Homo sapiens: one gene and its partner. The protein of the gene in region 2 purifies or fractionates together with the protein of the main gene of each other region. This does not show direct contact. Each region holds a gene or a part of one and is shown on either strand. Other genes may lie near its edges.

The links.
Region 1: the proteins of BTN2A1 (region 2) and TMX4 purify together in Homo sapiens (affinity purification with mass spectrometry; 3 studies listed by BioGRID and IntAct, with this or other methods). This does not show direct contact.

The regions. Positions count from the first base shown.
Region 1 is NC_000020.11:7,985,119-7,988,773, forward strand, and holds part of TMX4 (thioredoxin-related transmembrane protein 4 precursor), read right to left. Parts: intron 2,272-3,655; coding exon 2,170-2,271; intron 1-2,169.
Region 2 is NC_000006.12:26,460,835-26,464,489, reverse strand, and holds part of BTN2A1 (butyrophilin subfamily 2 member A1 isoform 1 precursor), read right to left. Parts: intron 1,247-3,655; coding exon 965-1,246; intron 1-964.

The DNA of each region.
Region 1 (3,655 bases), on a different chromosome or scaffold from region 2:
CAAAACAGAAGTTGAAAGTACATAAGAAATTAAAGGTTACTAAAAGCAAAAATTCTAGCAGTTGTGTGTTTACTTTAATATACTTAACAGTTATAGAAAAGGCATTCTGTGTGTGTGTGTATATATATGTGTGTGTGTGTATATATATATATATATATATTTTTTTTTTTTTTGAGACAGGGTCTAGCTCTGTCACCCAGGCTGGAGTACAGTGGCAAGATTATGGCTCACAGCAGCCTCGAACTCCTGGGCTCAAGTGATCCTCCCACCTCAGCCTCCCGAGTAGCTGGGACTACAGGTGTGTGCCACCATGCCAGGCTAATTTTTGTATTTTTGTAGAGACAGGGTTTTACCATGTTGCCAAGGCTGGTCTCAAACTCCTGGGCTCAAATGATCCACCTGCCTCAGCCTCCCAGAGTGCCAGGATTACAGGCCTGAGCCACTGTGCCCAGCCTAAAACAGGTACTTTGAACACAGATATGTGTTTGTTATTTTTTGGAAACTTATTAACAGTAAATGTATGAATCTTTTATAATTTATGATTCATATGCTTTGAAATTATTATTTCGTTAATAAAGTTAATAATATTTTGTTAAATAAAGTTATTTTCTTATTAAGGAAGGGTAGTCTATCTCACTTAATCACTTGAACAGGCTAGAATCACTCTCTCCTTTCTTCAGGCCAAGCCTCCAATAACCTTTCTACACTGATTATCTGAATCTAGGTTTCCAAAGGAATCTAAGGCATAGGCAGGCAGGCCTGACTCAATTTCATGGACTTAAAGTCAACATCAAAAATAATATTCTAAAACTCTAAGCATTTTCACTAGTCTTCCAACAGGGTCACACACAACCTACATTCCCTATAACTCCATCATTGACTCGCCTGGGACCTCATACTGTTTCCCCCTACAAGAACCTCACACTATGGTAGCCCCAAAATACACTGCTAGAAAAATCTCGCACCAGACAACAGATGGGAGAAGCACAGACAATCACATTCTATTTATATCCGGTGTCAAATCCCTTTAGACGGGAGCAATGGGGACATGTTAATTAGCAAAAAGATTAATGCAACAGAACAGAACATACCCAGGACCTAATGAAGGACATATACAGATATCTAAGTAAGTCCCATTCTTATCCCTGAAGTTAACATCAGGAGCCAAGTTTCAAAGATAAGCCATGATATGTATTAAGCATGTTCATAGAAAAGTCAAATCGAGCCTCCTTGGCCTCTTGGGGTTGTGACTTACTATAAGTCAATTGTTAACATTTTTAAAAAGAACTTGCTAAAGAGCCAAAATTCATTATAAAATATAAGGACAGACTTTAAGATAATCTTACCTTAAAGTCTGTTCTTTGACATAAATTTTTAGTAATCATCAATTATTCCCATTATAGTGTTTAGGAACTATGTGTTTAGTATACAATATAAAGGTTTTTAAAAACTTTTTGGTTTAATTAGGGTTTAAAATGCAATCAAACTAATCAAGATTAGGTTAAGAGAAATAAAAAATAACAAGAAGTACAACATGCTGAACATTTATAGTTGCCTATGTAGTTAGATAAATAAATTTATTATTCAACTCTTGCCTGAAATACCTGGGGAGAAAATACCTGGGGAGATATATACTGCATACTGATTTTCATGCCCAAAGAATAATTGTGTTGTGTTAACTACATTATCTATCTCAGGAAAACCAGAGTGTATGCATAAGCGGCTAGTCAGGATTAGTTTAACTGGAGGATAAGAACAACAACAACAACAATCTTGCATCTACACAAGGAACAAATTCAAAACCTTGGCCTTATCACTACAGTGTTTCTAATTAAGCAGGCAATGTGTGAAATCACAGCTGACTCAGTTGTCTTAGAAACTATCAATTCTAGTAAGGTCTCTTTTTTTTTTTTTTTTTAATTACTGTCTATAGGCAGTACACATCTTCAAAATACTTAAGGGATAGGATTAGGGGATAAGAATTTAATAAATTTTCTGTTATATCTCACATTACCATTGAAAGCAGTCTCAAACAAGCAAATGCTATTTAACTACTTAGATTGCACAAAATACTATTTTTTATGTGCTTTTTCTTTCTTGGCTGCCTTTTATTTGTACATGAAATTCATTTTGCCTTAAAGATAGAAAAAGTTTGGTATTATCTCTTACCAGACCCATAAAAAGGCCAAAAACCAAGGTGGCTATGACGAAAAAGACATAAGAACACCAAGCAGGAATTCCAAGAGTCACTGTGAAATAGTTGTGAAGATGCTGGAATCAGAAGAAAAAAAATAAAACATTAATTTTTAAGAGAACCAAAAATATTTCAATCTCTCTCTCTAGCTGTTGTTTCTACATACATAGGTTCCCACAAAGCTTTATGTATCTAAATGATTCTTAAAGAACAAGTCAATTTTATAATATTGGGAAACTGAGAGTAGTAATTAAGGTCATTACTAAAAAAAAAGTTATACTTGCTTAGAGTTCATAATCTGGATAGAATTCTGGTAGAATCGTTTTGATAGTCCTTTCTTCCATCATGATGGATGCTTTTGGCCCTCCTCCCCTAATAATTATATACATCTCAATGTTTACTTATAATAGGGCATTCATGAAAAAATTAAACTTTTTGGGCCTCTGACTTTTTAGTAAAACTAAATTACGACTTACAGAACGTCAATCATTTAAAATGTCTCCATACCTCTTTTTCCTAATTAGACTCTCATTGCTCTACACCTATTCATCCTTTCAAAGTTTGGTAAATTACCAGAAAACATAAAATGTAACAGTAGACAGAAGAAAGTTTTTCTGATTAATTTATTATGAGCAAATGAGATTCCAGCAGTCTTTGAATAGAGTGTATATCCCTTCATGCTTACTGTTCCCTAAGACTCTATTTGATGACAAACACTCTAAAAATGAGTGAAGGGACATAATCACAGCTAGAAAGTATTTACATGCTAAATCATAAAGAAATTAACAGATATGAACTTGCTATTTCAAAGTCAAAACCTACTTAGATGTAGAGTTGCAGGAGCCATGCTTCCTCACAATCACTTAGTCATTTGTTCAAGACCCTGACAGCTTCAAAAATGGCCATTAAAATTCAAGTAACTACTGGACACAGGATGATATGGCTCCAAATATCATCAGCAAGAGAGGTAATGACAATGACTTCCCTAGAACCAGTAAGGTTGATGAAAATGAGTCCAAGTTTCTATTTTAATTTCCTATTTCTCAAAATCTAAATCACTCCCATTGGTTTCTTAGTTTATGTCAATGCAATTAAAAAACATATTTTATTCTGGCTTAATTTGGAATGATAAATAAAGAACAAAGCTTGTAAACTGATTTAGCAAAATCTGAAATATCTCTCTACAATTTCTTATTCAGCAGAAGAGATAGAGCTAAAGACGCAGCAAGTAGTTTAAACACTGACACATGGAATCAAAGTGTTCAATCAGTATTTGTTGAATAAGGAAAAGATGCATCAAATGCCTGAGCTATTTATTCATACGAAAGGCAAACACACTCTCAAACTGTAAAGCTGGCATCTGTCCTCTGTTGATGGCACTGGTCATCAGTGTGTGTTTAGCCAGGACAACTGTTTATTAAGAGTAACTTGGCTGGACACGGTGACTCATGCCTGTAATCC
Region 2 (3,655 bases):
CTTCCCTGACCATTCTGTTAAGAATTGCAATGTCTCACATTGCCTCTTTATTCCTTCCTTGCTTAATGTTTCCTATAGATGTTCATTACCATCTGATAGAATATATGGTTAGCTAACTAATCACTTTTTGAGGGAAGAGTTCTTAATATAATTTGTTCAATGATTTACCCTTGGTAGAACAGTGTTTTGAACATACGATATGCTTCTTGACCATTTGTTGAATGAATTGTGAGTGTGTGTCTATAGGGAATTTCCACAGCTCTGTCCTGTGGAAAATCCCCTGCACAGGAAGGGATGGCTACAGCATACAGGAACACCAAGTGTAGAGAGTCACTTATCCACACCACCCTCCATATGTTATGGTTGTTTTCAATGTCTAAAAATTGCTGGCCGGGTATGGTGGCTCACGCCTGTAATCCTAGCACTTTGGAAGGCTGAGGCAGGTGGATCACTTGAGGTCAGGAGTTCGAGAACAGCCTGGTCAACAAGGTGAAATCCCCATCTCTACTAAAAATACAAAAATTAGCCGGGTGTGGTGGCGTGTGCCTGTAGTCCTAGCCTTCGGGAGGCTGAGGTATGAGAATTGCTTGAACCTGGGAGGAGGAGGTTGCAGTGAGCCAAGATTGTGCCACTGCATGCTAGCCTGTGTGACAGAGCAAGAACTTGTCTTAAAAAAAAATTGCAGCAGTGTAAGGACCTTATTGGGGGGAAAAACAACAACAACAACAACAACAACAACAAAAACAGGTTTACCCTCAGAGAAGAGGCTCCTACTCCTGAGTTTTGGGACACTTTGATTCTCCTTTTGTGAGAAGCGGAAAGGCTTCACTCAGCTGCAGCCTCCAGGTCCTTAGGGCCCAGGACTATTTCACCCACACTGCTGCCCCCATCCCCGTTCTGGGCTCCATCTGTGTGCTGAGGATCCCCCATGCACTCGACGAGTCTCAGAGGGCAGAGAACTAACCTGGAATAAAAATGACACTTTCTTTCTTCTGGCCGAGCAGGGTGTTGTTGATAGAGCAGGACATGTTCCTCACAGACTTGTCTCTGATGATCACAGCCGTGGTGACCATGAAGAGGCCGTCTGCATCAGGCATGGAGACCTCTTTCAGGGCAGGCGCAACCCCACCGTAGGGGTCCCTCCACACTGTGAGGGGCTTTGGGTACCACCCTCTAGATATGCACTCCAGCCGGATGCCCCCGTCTTCATGGCCCCTCATTGAAATGAGGGGCTTAGAGCCTAGTCCTGTGGAGAGATATCAGGGTTCAGGCAAAAGTCAGTGCCTTTTGCATCTCTTCTGTGCCTATTGCATCTCTTCTGTGAAGCTAGAAAGTAAAGGTAAAAAAGAGGGAGATAGGAAACAAGAAATAGGAAGGAAGAAAAAAAGGATGAGGGTAAGGAAGAAAGAACATTGATGTTGGAGAACACCAGCAGGCCAATGGGCCACATAAACTGTGAGCTCTCTAAGAGGAAAGGATCCCATTGCACCCTTTTCTTTGCGGTCCACCTATAGGCCCCATCACAGCACCAAGCATCTATCTGTCTGCCATAAATGCTTGTTCAATTTATCCTGCCAGACTAATTTTCTCACTTTGAGATGGGTGTGTCGACTCCAACTTCAAACAGGCAGGTTTTGGATTTCACTTTCTGCTTCTGGGACGACTTCTCAGTAGACCTCAGCTTCCAGAAGCTCTAGAATAATAACGAGAAGGACGAAAGTCTGCCAGGCGGGCAGAATCCTAAGAAACCTTTTGATCCAAAGACATTGACCCTTCTGTCTAGTTCAGAACTTCACATAACCACCGCTTTCTACCACCCATAGGAGGTGATGGTTTTTAGGAGACTTGACAGATCTAGCCTGCAAATCCAACTCTAATCCTAATTCACACTGTTTACCTCCCAGAGGCTCCATCCATTAGGCAGTATTGCTTTTGTTGTTTTAGGGACAGGGTTTTAGCTCTGCTGTCCAGGTTGGAGTGCAGTGGCAAAATCATAGCTCACTGTGCCTTGTACTCCTGGGCTCAAGAGATCCTCCTGCTTCAGTCTCCCAACTAGCTAGGATTACAGGCATTTTCCACCATTCTTGGCTAACATGTTGCCCAGGCTGGGTGATTTTCTTATAGTACTTGGAGAACATCAACTTATTAGAAAGATCTGGATGATCCAGGGACTAAGATAACCATACCACTTTTTCAATATCAGAGATCATCACCAAAAATCCTAAGAAACTAGACTCACCCTAACTACAATCCATCTTTAAATGAATCTTCCATAAGAGTGAACACCAGGTATGAAAGAGCTGCAAAAGCGTGGTCCTGGGAGACCTTTCAGCCATGTGTGACCATCTAAACTTCTTCTGAGTAATTCCTTTGTAAAGTCTCCCAAAGAATTTTACCAAAGACAGGAAATTAAATCAATAACTTAAGTCTGGTGCTTTGGCTCAATTTAATAAAAAAAAATTTTTTTTTTTGACACAGTCTCACTCTATCGCCTGGGCTGGAATGCAGAAGCATGATCATGGCTCACTGCATCCTCGATTTCTGAGGGTCAGGTGATCCTCCCACCTCAGCCTCCCAAGTAGCTGAGACTACAGGCATGTGCCACCATGCCCAGCTACTTTTTTTTTGTATCTTTTTGTAGAGACTGGATTTTGCCATGTTGCCCAGGCTTATTTTTATTTATTTATTTATTTATTGATTTATTTTTTAGACAGAGTCTTGCTCTGTAGCCCAGGCTAGAGTGAAATGGTAGGATCTCAGCTCATTGCAACCTAGGCCACCTGAATTCAAGTGATTCTCTGGCCTCAGCCTCCCAAGTAGCTGGGACTACAGGCATGTGCCACCATGCCTGGATACTTTTTGTAATTTTAGTAAAGACAGGGTTTCACCATGTTGGCCAGGCTGGTCTCCAGCGCCTGACCTCGGATGACCCACCCGCCTTGGCCTCCCAAAATGCTAGGATTACAGGCATGAATCACTGCACTCGGCCCAGGGTCACTTTAATTTTTATCAAGAGATAAAACTACTTGTACATTTAAAGGCTCAGTGGAATAAGAATTAAAATAACTCAGCAAATTGGAAAACGAAATTCTTCAAAACATTCTATGAGGTTCAATACAGGCAAGCATGACAAAATAGATTTAAGGGCAAAATCAGCCACCAACCAACCTAACAAAGAGAATACAATGAACAAACAAACAAAAAGTCCTAAGCAATCCAATTCAGAGTGGGAAAGGCCAGGCCACTGTCAGTTTTATAGGCAAAGAATGGCAGATTCCTGCCGCGCAGAAACCATAACTGGTCAACCCTGGAGTGCTGCTATGAACACAGTCATGATGCAGGGTCAAGAAACCCTCCTTCCATGATATTCTGCTTTAATCAGATGCAAGGTTGCCTTTGTGTGTAGCAAAGATGGGGTCTCCTACCTGTTATGATTTGAGGCCCCCAGGGAAAGACCCAATTCCCTAGTCCTCACCTCCTCTGTCTGGTCTGATGGAGTGAAATGCCACCACAGATTATCCTGCACCTTAAAGGCTTTTTCAGTCCTCAAATATATCTTTTTTGTTGTTGTTTAATTTTTGATACAGAGTCTTGCTCTGTCGCCCAGGCTGGAGTGATGTGGTAAGATCTCGGCTCCCTGCAACCTCTGCCTCCT